2 linked regions of the Homo sapiens genome follow. Each later gene encodes a partner of the first gene's protein in a complex. Each region holds a gene or a part of one and is shown on either strand. Other genes may lie near its edges. The genes, in order: LMAN1 and MCFD2. A codon is read from its position in the direction of its gene.

Region 1 (7,408 bases):
GAGTTCATACGTTCACTCCCCATCACACACACATAACCCTTGTGACTCAGGGGAAGCTAACTCCATCCCCAGTTCCCAGGGTAGATCAGGATTTGTCTAACTAGTGATTCTCAGAGTGTGGTCCCCAGATAAGCAGCATTAGTATCACCTGGAGCTTGTTAGCAATACAAATTATTAGACCCTATTCTCAACCTACTAAAACTAGAAATGTGGGTCTCAGAAATTTGTGTTTTAACCAACTCCAGAAGTGATTCTGAATGATATTAGAGTTTGAGAACCACTGTTCTCAATCAAGGCTGGTAATCTTGTACTCTTTACCAGCAACTGATTCAGTGCTTGGTCTTCCCCTGGCTACGGTTAATGTTCCAAAGATGGACATGTAACCTAGATTGACCTAATCAGAATGAAAGGCAGAAATTTTATCCAAGGATGAAAGAGATTTTCTGTCTCTCCCATTGAACCTAAAGAAGATCTGACATCTTAGAACCTTGAGAGAAGCTAACCTGAGGACAAAGTCAATGTGAGGTAGAACCAGAACTTCTCAAAGATAGAGAGAACCTAGTCGTAACTGCCTGGGCCCAGTCCTAATCTAATTTACAGTTCAGTGAGATAACAGATTTCTTTATTGTTTAAGCCACTTTGAATTGGGGCTTTTTTTGCCCTTGCAGCCTAAAGCATTCAACTTATTAAAACACATATAATAATTTTCTAACTGTTCAAAGTTAAATCTGAATTCCCCAAGCAAGTTGTATTCCTACTGCCTTGCCTCTAGTATAGCGGTTTTAACACTTAATTGTCTGATGTTGTGAATAAGAACAAACACATGTGAATGAATGATCATGCACTGAAGGAGCAGGCAGACAATATCGTTTTCATTACTCTTATCAAATACAATTTATTCAAAGTCATTAGGAGGCTCCAAAAATAGTTAATCCACTAATGCAAACAATGAATTGGCATGGTAACCTTAGTTTTAACACTATTTTTGCTGTAACTAAGTGAAATTCTTTCCAGCTAGCTTAAGCAAAACGGAGGTCTATTTTAAGACTACTGGAGTGGCTCACAGACCATGGATTTTACCCCAACTCCAGCCAACAATTATGTGTGCCATTGATGAGGGGAGTGTATCTGGGTCAAAGAAAATTGAAATTGATCACCAATTATGAAAAAACAACCCATTAATCCACAGGGCTCCCTGTGAGTAGGAAGACCAGAAAGAAAAGATATCTCCCAATCTGCTTTTTGGCTTCTTATTCACTCCAGAGCAAAACACCATTCTGTGCTATGTGCTAGAAGACATCCATGGGTTTTATAAATGGGACAGGCCTGTCAATCTTCTGGCATTTGGGATACTTTTTGCTAGCACAGAAGAGGCTGGCAATGAGTCATGGATATTGCCAGAAGATAGTTATAAGGAATCAGGCAGCAAACCAAGCCCTGGTACTGCCACTCCATCTCTCCAGCTCTGTGCAGGGCCCAATGGTGTGTTGAGGGACCCTCATAATTTTTATTCCCCTCCCAATTCAAAAATCTGAGCTTAATTTTTGGAAATTGCCTCAGGCACTAGAGGGTAGTAGGAAATCCCTCCTCATTGTGTTGTACAAAATTTGCAATACGGTATTGCCCTGAAGGTAAAACATCACTTAATTGTAAGGAATTTCCCCTACATGGATTACTTCAAAAACACAGATTTTAAAATTCACTGGCCCAGAGTTCCTGGGGCCTGGAGTAAAAGCATTCTGATCCTTGAAACTTCAGTTTGCCAGGCCCAGTTTCTCAATTTCGCTATTTGTAAAATGGTCTTATCTAACTCAAACCGAAAAGCTCTCAGTTCTGAAGGAAAAATGCTATAAAATTTAAAGTTTAACAACTTAGACAAAACAACAAGCAAGATTCCCAGACATGACACACAAAAAACCCTTACGGGGGAAAATAGTAAATTGAGCTATATTAAAATTATAAGTATCTATTCACTAAAAGACAACATTAAGAGAGTGAAAAGTCATCCCACGAAGTGGGTGCAAATATTCGCTATATGTATATATCCAAGCAGAGACAGGTATTCAGAATAAAGAGTTTCTACAAGCTAACAAAAAAAGTCAGACAGCTGAAGCCCTCACATACTGCTGATGGCAGTGTAAATTAGCACAACCACTCTGAAAATTTGGCAGGATCTACTATGACCCAGCAACTCTACTCCTAGTTACATACCCAGTAGAAATTTTTTTTTATTATACTTTAAGTTCTAGGGTACATGTGCACAACGTGCAGGTTTGTTACATATGTATACATGTGCCATGTTGGTGTGCTGCACCCATTAACTCTAGAAATGTGTGTTTTTTAAAAAAAAAATCTGGATGCTGGTTGCATGGGAGGTATTCATTTTGGGAAAAATTCATTGAGTTACATTCTTAAGGCTGGCATAATTTTCTCTATATAATATGCTTCAATAAAACAGTTTTTTTTTTAAGAAACAGCTTCACAGAACATAAAGATTTACATTTATGGTTCAGCAAAATTACAAATATTTACTTGTATTATGCTTGAAATTCAGGTCCCTCATGAGTTCAAATCATGCGTAATGAATTGAAAATACTTAATATACATAATGTTTAACATAAAACGGTTCTTAAGATTGAAGGCTTCAATGATAGAATGGCTGGAATTGAAACCTACCTCTGCCACTTACTGTGTGACATTGGGCAAATTATTTAATCTATGCTTCTGTTTCCTCATCTGTAAATGGAAATATTAATGGCATCTACCTTAGAGGGCTGCTGTCAGCATTCAATAAGTTAACATATGTTGAAGGCTTAGTGCAGTTACACACAGAAAGCACTCAGTAAGTGTTTGCCATTTTTATAACATTAATGTTTGTTTAACAAATATTTATGGAATCTTCACTCTGTGCAAGGCATAGAGCTGGTTGCCAGAGCAATGAGAGAACCAAAGAAAATAAAATGATTAAATCCTATGGGTTGAAAACCATGGAGAGTCCAGGGCAATGACGCACATACACCATACAGTGGATAAATGTTTGTTACTGCTGCTGCTGAGATAGCAGTAAGTATGGTACTTTCATTTAAATTACATCTCGAGACTAGCAGGCGGAAAGCCTTAAATCCATATTCAACTTGAAGGTTTTATTTGAGCACTAGAAAGAGATTTAACAGTAATGGCCCATGAATCCGAAGATGGGATTCAACTTCCAAAACTGGGAAGTTAATGAAAAATAAGTTTAAGTAATGCGGGTATTGAGTCCCTAGGGCTAGTGTGGCGTTCATGTAGCCCACACGAACAGAGCTAATAAAAAGCCATGTGTAAAAACAATATAAATCATACTGCTGTTTCTTGGACTTGAAAAACTCATCATGACACATTTTTGAAAAAACAAAACTTTGGATTACCATGAATATTTTGACGATATTTTTTCCTAAGCAAGGGAAAGAGGAGTCCCCTTTAAAATATAGAACGTATTCATTGAGTGGAAGACCGATCCTATATCAAATGTCCAGGTTCTACAGACGCCTGGGTCCATAGCACATTATCCCTCTCACCAAAACCAAACCAAACCAAAGTCAGTTTCATTTGAATGCACTCTTGCCATGGTTTCAAAATTTGGAAAGCTCTTGGAATTAAATTTTGAGATGTAAAGGCTGGCTGACAAATTCACAGAAACCCTCTTTCCGACACCAACTTATAAATCCTAAGGCATCCTACAACCCCGTGGGTGCTGGTTTCTAGTTTGCAACGCTCTAACATAGCTTGGTAGAGCTCAGTGGGCTGGGACCATAAGCATTCGGGATTGTGCCACTGAAAAACTGATGTCACATCAAAAGGAACACCTTTCTTCTAATATACTAAAAAGGTTTTGTACAGGCTGGGTCCAGAGGTCTTAGGGCTAGCCAATTCCTGCTCCCAGGTATTCTAAGAAGCCGGAGAAAGCTCCCTGCAGGTAAGGACCCATCGGCGCTTCCCGCACTCTGCCGCGCGGGAAGCGAAGGTTGGAGTCCTTTCCCCACCCCCGGAGGGTGGGCGGGGCCGAAGGACCGCACCGCCCCAGACCCGCCCCCTGCGCGTGGCCCCGCCCACAGCTGCTCCTGGCCGTGCGGCCGCGCGGAAAGCGGAGGCCGGGGGCGGGGCTCACCCCTTGCCCTTGGGGGTCCCCCGGGCTCTGCCAATCAGCGAGCGCCCTGTTGGCCATCCGCAGCCATCCGCGCCCCTCCCTCTCCCGCCCTCCTCCGCGTTCCAGAATCCAAGATGGCGGGATCCAGGCAAAGGGGTCTCCGGGCCAGAGTTCGGCCGCTGTTCTGCGCCTTGCTGCTGTCACTCGGTCGCTTCGTCCGGGGCGACGGCGTGGGAGGAGACCCCGCGGTCGCGTTGCCACATCGCCGTTTCGAGTACAAATACAGCTTCAAGGGGCCGCACCTGGTGCAGAGCGACGGGACCGTGCCCTTCTGGGCCCACGCGGGGAGTAAGCCGGAGCAGAGGGCTGGGGGCCGGGTTCCTCTCCCCCTTCTGCTGCCTCTTCGCCTTTCATCCGCGGCTACCCTGGTGTGCTGAGGTTCCCGTTCCAGCAGCTGCACACCATATGCGCTGTGGAGGGGACCCTCCTGGCAGCCCCTCCGCCGGGTCCCTCCTGGTTCGCACGGTTCCCTCCGCTTGTCCCCGAGTCTTTCCCTCACCCATTCTGTTCTCTCTCACCCGCCTGCTGTCTTCCCTTCTTTGATCTCGTCGGTACTTTCCGTTGGATCTAGAGGTGTTTGGTTACCTCCTACACTTCCTAGCACTCAAACTTGCTTCTAGGTATCATGTTTCACAACGCCACGTCTCTAGGAGAAATGTGCCCTACCCCCAGCCATCCCAACCTGAGACATGTTCTAGAAGCCCCCTTACTTCCTTTCCCGCTTCCACCCCCCACCCCCGATCCCCGATTTCTTTGCTCCGGTGTTAGCAATGGTTAATGCTTCGCTTGAACCCCATGCCCACTGACGGCTCCTGAGATGGCATATAGTAGTATTAGAGTAATTTTTTAAGTCTTTGTATGTCAGAAGACATTCTTATACTGTTGGAACTACACATTTTCCTCTCAGTGACTTGGTGTGGTCTTTGATCTTTTCTCTCGTAGTAACACATTATGTAACTTTTTAGGAGAAGGGATATATTTTTAGGGATTGATTGTTTCTGAACCTGAGACTAAGAATAGCATTACATTTTTAGCCCTTTAAAAAAATTGGAAGCATTGAAATAATCTTGGGTTCATATTTTATTCACTCTCTGTGTTTGGCACTTTTGTAGATAAGAGAGCCTTGCTAGAGCATTTACTTACGTGAAAGAAAACATATCTGCACTTTTTAGTGCTGATGTGTCACTGCTGACTAAGGAGTCAATCGTAGCACTTGGCATGACATAAGCTCTGTTCAGTGACCATCAGATATACCCGTTGAACAAGTGGCAAATGCCTTTATATGAGATGAGGAGCTCTGGCAGTTTGAATTCTATCTTTGTGTGTGATTAATCTTTTTTTTTTTTTTTTTTTTTACTATAAGGTTTAGGGTACATGTGCACAACGTGCAGGTTGGTTAGTATGTATACATTTGCCATGTTGGTGTGCTGCACCCATTAACTAGTCATTTAACATTAGGTATATCTCCTAATGCTATCCCTCCCACCTCCCCCATAAGTAATCTTTTATATAAGGTTTTTATACATCACTTTAGATTATCCAGTTCTTGAAACAAAATGTTTCATTTCTAGAAAGTAATTACTGAATAGGAAGCACCCTTTTAGGAAGCGCTATTTCTCTCAAATTAATGTGTAATTGAAAGGTATAGATTTTAATTTGACTTAATGACCAAGTCATTAAGTAGTTGAAGTAGAGTGCAGTTATTTCGTTACTCAGCAGTCATTTATTATGTGCCCATGCAGCAAGGGTATATTACTGGGCATTTGTTATCAAGGTATCTCTATTCTTGATACACAAAGGTGATGCAAATGATATCAAACACAAGTTTTTGGAGTTTTTGTTTCTATTTGTGGGATGATGAATTATTCAGTAGTGATGGATTTGTTCACACATTTTCACTTCTACACCTCTCCACTGCCTGCCTGTTCTTCTATCCCTTTTCTCTTTTTCTCACACTCACATACACTACATTAGCCAATTAGGAATGTTAATCAACTAGTCAAATCAGCTACCTTGACTTCCTTTACAGAGCCGGAACCAACTAATCTATTCTGCTGCAGAAATGTCAAGATAATGTACCAGTAAATTAAAGCCGTGTGGCTAGAATGAATTTGAAACAAAGTATTAGTATTTTAGCCATGATTTATCTGGCTACTGGCTCTGGGAATCTCTGCTATAGACATCCCTTGCTTTCATTGTCACTGTAGTTTTTGCATAAGCCTCACTGTAACTACATTGATCATTTTTTTCTTTTCGTTTTGCTCTGCAATTCATTACTTTAAAAAAAAAGTAGAGAAATTTAAGATCTAGTTTAAACACAGCCCTTTACCTTCAACCCCAAATTAAGACCAAATCTATGGTGTTTCTCTTTCTTAACTCTAATGTTCCTTTAGTACACTTAAGGCCATAAGGGCAAAAAATGATAATTTGTAACCCTTTATAGCTCTCAGAGTTCTTTCACTTTCATTCTCTGATTTGATCCTTAGTAGACAAGGCGGGTGTTATCTGTTTTATAGATGAAAAACTGATGTTCAGAAAGGTTAAGGTTTTTGAAAAAGGATACATAAGTAGTAAGTGTCAGTGAAGTTGAACTCAAATCTAGGTCTTCTGATTCTGTGTTCAGTCTCTTTCCATGATGCCCACACCCCATCCTTTGAATGTTTGTAAGTAACAGTGAACAGTGACTGATCCTACTAAAGTATCTCAGCTTTCCTTTTTGTCAACTTTTTTCTACCTGTAAAGTGAGATTACAGTTACAGTTGTATTTCCCAGCATGGGTTTCAGAATTAGTTAATATCTGAGAGCTAGAATTGTTCAAATTTTAAGTCTGATAGACCTTTAGTAATTACCTAGTCTAATAATAGGAGAAATAGCTAACATTTATTGAAACATTTAAAGCTACTTGTGTAGGCACTTAAATACCTATGAGGCTGTTCAAGAAATGGAGTAACTTGCCTACAGATCAAACAGCTAGTAAGTAGTAGAGCTGGGGCTTGAACCTAGCCTGGAGATGTAAACCACCGTTTTAGGGATCACTATTTTCTCTGAGAATCTTCTGAAGAATTGCTTTTTGAAGTTCAGTTGACCCTCTCCATGGAAGAATGTATATAAGTACAGTATTTTGCATATAACTTTTAGGGTGTTTATGGAAGTGATCGAGCCTAGCTCCTTCATTTTACAGGTAAACATATGGTGAATCCAAGAGAATAAGAGAATTATTTG
Region 2 (4,726 bases), on another chromosome or scaffold:
CCTTATACATTCTGAAGAATTCTTGAGGCAGGCTGCAAGAAGCCAAGGCCTCATGTGTGGGAGATAGAGGGCATATGCAGGGAAGGGCCCATCATGCTGTGTCCCTGATGTCCCAGGAAACTCTCCCATCAGGAGAATTTTTTATAAGGAAGGGCAGGCAAGGACCACAAAGGCCAGCATGGAATAGTTACTAACAGCAGCCAGCTGTGGAGAAGGAAGGTGTTCCAGCCTTGTCTGTTTGATGGGGTGATTCCACTATCTGAGGATCTGCTTCTCTCCCTCTCCCAGCTGCCAACAACTGGGAGCCCATTCACTAGATCCATCCAGAGGGGTAGTTCTGGATGAAGAAGGGTCAGTGCAAGGTCCGAGGGTCTCAGAGGGTACGGAGGGAGGCAATGATAATTTCCTTTTAAAAGGCAGAAAAAAGTGTGTCTTCTCAAAATGCCAGGGGAGACTTTTTTTGCTTGGGTCTGGTATGTTTTCAATAATGCTATCAAATTAAAAAACAGTCGCCAGACCAGGGGAAAACGCTATGCAGTCTCCTAGAGAATGGTGTCATAATTTAAATTTGACCAGAGAATGAAGATCCAAAAGTGATTTCATTCAGAAGAAAAAATGCCTAAAAGGGGAAAGTAACTTTGAATTCTGAGAATTGACTCCTGCAAAAGGAGCAGGGTATAGCCGAAGATAGTCACAGGAACTATGATAAGAGCAGGCACATGTGAACATTTGTAGTAAACACACCCTGCATGTGGCAGGAGAAGCTGATGTGAACAAAATCAACTGCTCGAGGTTTTGCTTCATCAGTTTTATTGGTCATATATCCAGAATTCATCATATATAAATCTTTCAAAATAATGAGCTATTACAAGAATAGTTTACAAGTCAGCTCTGACTGCACAAATACTTGACACAGGAAACCATTTTTACAAATACATATGTTTTCTTATAATACTGTAATAAAGAAAATAAGTCTGTATACATCCTACGACAAATTTTGTAGTCTCTTTTTCCCATTCAATCATCGTTTCAGGTTTTCTATTACAGAACGTCCATCACATCCAATAAACCAAATTACAATCTGCTGCTTCTTCTCATTTTCAAATACTATAAAGATTCACACTGTTAAAGGGTTTTTTGGGTTCCTTTTCTAATCTTTCCTGATTTGAAAAGAATCCATGTATCTAGGCTAAAAGAGGTAACTTCAACAATATCCCTCTTGACTAGAACTTCTATCTGATTAATCATTGTTTGGTGAATTATCTTTTCACTTCCTACTTAGGCTAGGCCAGGTGGTAGTTTTACCCCTGCTGATAAAGTCCTGACATTCCTAATAGTTCCTAAACTGCAAATAAAAAACCCTAGAAACGAGTGAAATAGAAAAGAAAGCTAAACCACTATTGATTAGAGAACACACTCAAATTCAGGGTCTCTCCCAGGTTGAAGAAGACAGAAAAGCAATAAAGTATAAGGATGTGGCAGTAGTTGTATAAAATACTGAAAATCTGAAAGAGTCATCACTTAAGCCAGTAGTGTATCATTTCCAAAATGTCAGAGGATACAGAATCTTAGACTCTGTGGCTAGGCTGAACTCAGAATCTCAGACTCTGTGGCTAGGCTGACATTCTTATGCTGTGGCTTTGAAATAGCCTAATAAATATCCACTTGCCCAGAGCAAGTAATCATTTAGGCCAGGGGAACTTTACAGAATACTGACCATGTTTGCCTGAAGAGATAGGAACCACCAGGGCAAACATTTGGTATTCACTCCACTTCACTGTTACTGAAAAGCATCCACTTGGCAAAGCCTGTTGTTTTACTTTTCAGGTGATGTGAATTAAAATTAAGAAACTAGCAGTATTCTACTACAGTCAAGTTCCTGAGTACTCAGCTCCAATTATCTAATATTCTTGAAAGGATGCTGATATGGTTTGGTTGTGTCCCCCCACAAATCTCAACTTGAATTGTATCTCCCAGAATTCCCACGTGTTGTGGGACAGACCCAGGGGGAGGTAATTGAATCATGGGGGCCAGTCTTTCCCGTGCTATTCTCGTGACAGTGAATAAGTCTCATGAGATCTGATCAGTTTATCAGGGGTTTCTGCTTTTGCTTCTTCCTCATTTTTTCTTGCCACAATGTAAGAAGTGTCTTTTGCCTCCCACCATGATTCTGAGGCCTCCCCAGCCATGTGGAACTTTAAGTCCAATTAAACCACTTTTTCTTCCCAGTCTCGGGTATGTCTTTATCAGCAGCGTGAAAACGGACTAATACAGTAAATTGGTACCAGTAGATTGGGACCTGCTGAAGAAATACCCAAAATGTGGAAGTGACTTTGGAACTGGGTAACAGGCAGAGGCTGGAACAGTTTGGAGGGCTCAGAAGAAAACAGGAAAATGTGGGAAAGTTTGGAACTTCCTACAGACTTGTTGAATGGCTTTGCCCCAAATGCTGATAGCAATATGGACAACAAAGTCCAGGCTGAGGTGGCCTCAGATGAAGATGAGGAACTTGTTGGGAACTGGAGTAAAGGTGACTCTTGTTATGTTTTAGCAAAGAGACTGGCAGCATTTTGCCCCTTCCATAGGGATTTGTGGAACTTTGAACTTGAGAGAGATGATTTAGGTTAACTAGCGGAAGAAATTTCTAAGCAGCAAAGTGTTCAACAGGTGACTTGGGTGCTTTTAAAGGCATTCCCTTATAAATAAGGGAAGCAAAGCATAAAAGTTTGGAAATTTGCAGCCTGACTATGCAATAGAAAAGAAAAACCCATTTTCTGGGGAGAAATTCAAGCCAGCTGCAGAAATTTGCATAAGTAGCAAGGAGCCTAATGTTAATCCCCAACACCATGGGGAAAATGTCTCCAGGCCATGTCAGGGCAGCCCCTGACATGTGTGTGCAGCCTAGGGACTTGGTGTCTTGTGTCCCAGCCACTCCAGCCATGGCTGAAAGGGGCCAACATACAGCTCGGGCTGTGGCTTCAGAGTGGAAGCCCCAAGCCTTGGCAGCTTCTATGTGCTGTTAAGCCTGCAGGTGCACAGAAGTCAAGAATTGAGATTTGGAAACCTCCGCCTAGTTTTCAGAAGATGTATGGAAATGCCTCAATGCCCAGGCAAACGTTTGCTGCAGGGGAGAGGCCCTCTCAGCGGCAGGGGAGAGAACCTCTGCTAGGGCAGTGCAGAAGGGAAATGTGGTGTGGGAGCCCCCACACAGAGTCCCTACTGGGGCACTGCCTAGTGGAGCTGTGAGAAGAGGGCCACCGTCCTCCAGACCCCAGAATGGTAGATCCACCAACAGCTTGCACCGTGCACCTGGAAAAGCCGCAGGCACTGAACAACAGCCGTGAAAGCAGCCAGGAGGGAGGCTGTACCCTACAAAGCCACAGGGGCAGAGCTGCCCAAGACCATGGGAACCCACTTCTTGCATCAGTATGACCTGGATGTGAGACCTGGAGTCAAAGGAGATTATTCTGGAACTTTAAAATTTGACAGCCCTGCTGGATTTCGGACTTGCATGGGCCCTGTAACCCCTTTATTTTGGCCAATTTCTCCCATTTGGAACAGCCGTCTTTAATCAATACCTGTACCCCTGTTGGTATCTAGGAAGTAACTAGCTTGCTTTTGATTTTACAGGCTCATAGGTGGAAGGGACTTGCCTTGTCTCAGATGAGACTTTGGACTGTGGATTTTTGCGTTAATGCTGAAAAGAGTTAAGACTTTGGGGGACTGTTAGGAAGGCATGATTGGTTTTGAATAGTGAGGACATGAGATTTGGAGGGGCCAGGGGTAGAATGATATGGTTTGGCTATGTCCCCACCCAAATCTCAACTTGAAATTGTATCTACCAGAATTCCCACGTGTTGTGGGAGAGACCCAAGGGGAGGTAATTGAATCATGGGGGCCAGTCTTTCCCATGCTATTCTTGTGATAGTGAATAAGTTTCACAAGATCTGATGGCTTATCAGGGGTTTCCACTTTTGCTTCTTCCTCATTTTCTCTTGCTGCCATGTAAGAAGTGCCTTTCACCTCCCGCCATGATTCTGAGGCCTCCCCAGCCATGTGGAACTGTAAGTCCAAGTAAACCTCTTTTTCTTCCCAGTCTCGGGTACGTCTTTATCAGCAGCATTAATACAGACTAATACAGATGCTTGAAGCAAGCCCTTGTCCAATAAGGTATTTAATAGCACTTAGGGACTATTAGATGTCCCATTTCTCTTCTCTTTCATTTCTCTTATCTCTTCTCACCCCAGTGTAACGAATCGCTACAGGTTTTTACCAAAATGCTGCAGCAGTAGTTGGAAATGAGTTATTTTGCATTACTAAAGTGTTCAATCACATTATCACGGGTCACATTTGTATATAACCAGGAGATGGCCAAATAACATCTACTGCAGTGATTTTGCAAATTCAGCATAGTCAATGTATCCATCATTGTTCTTGTCATCATCTCTCAAAACACCATCTATTATGTTAATCAGTTCATCTTCACTCATTAGTGGTGCCTGTTCACTCCCTTCCTACAAAATACAAATTAGACAATGATGAGTTGCGCATTTTACCGGAAGAAGTGCTTAACTAACGTCCAAAATATCCATGTTCTTTCATGGCACTGTTTATTAAAAAAAAAAAAAAAAAAAAGGAAAAACAAAACAACAAAATATCCACGCTCATATGTGTCCAAAAACTTTCAATGGAGTATGGGGCTACTTCTAGGAATCTAGATATATAG

Evidence for each region.
Region 2: the proteins of LMAN1 (region 1) and MCFD2 are in contact, whole or in part, in a cryo-EM structure (PDB 8JP5), measured with the Homo sapiens proteins. Residues at the interface, in NP_005561.1 of Homo sapiens: His43 (codon at 4,387), Arg44 (codon at 4,390), Arg45 (codon at 4,393), Phe46 (codon at 4,396), Tyr48 (codon at 4,402), Lys49 (codon at 4,405), Ser51 (codon at 4,411), Phe52 (codon at 4,414), Lys53 (codon at 4,417), Pro55 (codon at 4,423), His56 (codon at 4,426), Gln59 (codon at 4,435), Ser60 (codon at 4,438), Asp61 (codon at 4,441), Val64 (codon at 4,450), Pro65 (codon at 4,453), Phe66 (codon at 4,456), Trp67 (codon at 4,459), Lys96, Phe265, Glu273, Lys279, Glu280, Ile281, Glu285, Lys286, Tyr289, Glu292, Phe293, Phe296; in NP_001164977.1 of Homo sapiens: Val59, Ile60, Asn61, Lys62, Gln70, Glu71, Leu74, His75, Phe77, Lys78, Tyr82, Asp83, Asn86, Asp89, Gly90, Leu91, Glu92, Thr95, Thr98, His99, Val100, Leu111, Glu114, Leu117, Ile118, Ile121, Asp122, Leu125, Asp129, Lys130.

The regions. Positions count from the first base shown.
Region 1 is NC_000018.10:59,356,097-59,363,504, reverse strand, and holds the start of LMAN1 (protein ERGIC-53 precursor), read left to right. Parts: upstream 1-4,239; 5' UTR 4,240-4,260; coding exon 4,261-4,474; intron 4,475-7,408. UniProt on the Homo sapiens protein: Mannose-specific lectin. May recognize sugar residues of glycoproteins, glycolipids, or glycosylphosphatidyl inositol anchors and may be involved in the sorting or recycling of proteins, lipids, or both.
Region 2 is NC_000002.12:46,901,081-46,905,806, forward strand, and holds the end of MCFD2 (multiple coagulation factor deficiency protein 2 isoform A precursor), read right to left. Parts: intron 4,515-4,726; coding exon 4,383-4,514; 3' UTR 794-4,382; downstream 1-793. UniProt on the Homo sapiens protein: The MCFD2-LMAN1 complex forms a specific cargo receptor for the ER-to-Golgi transport of selected proteins. Plays a role in the secretion of coagulation factors.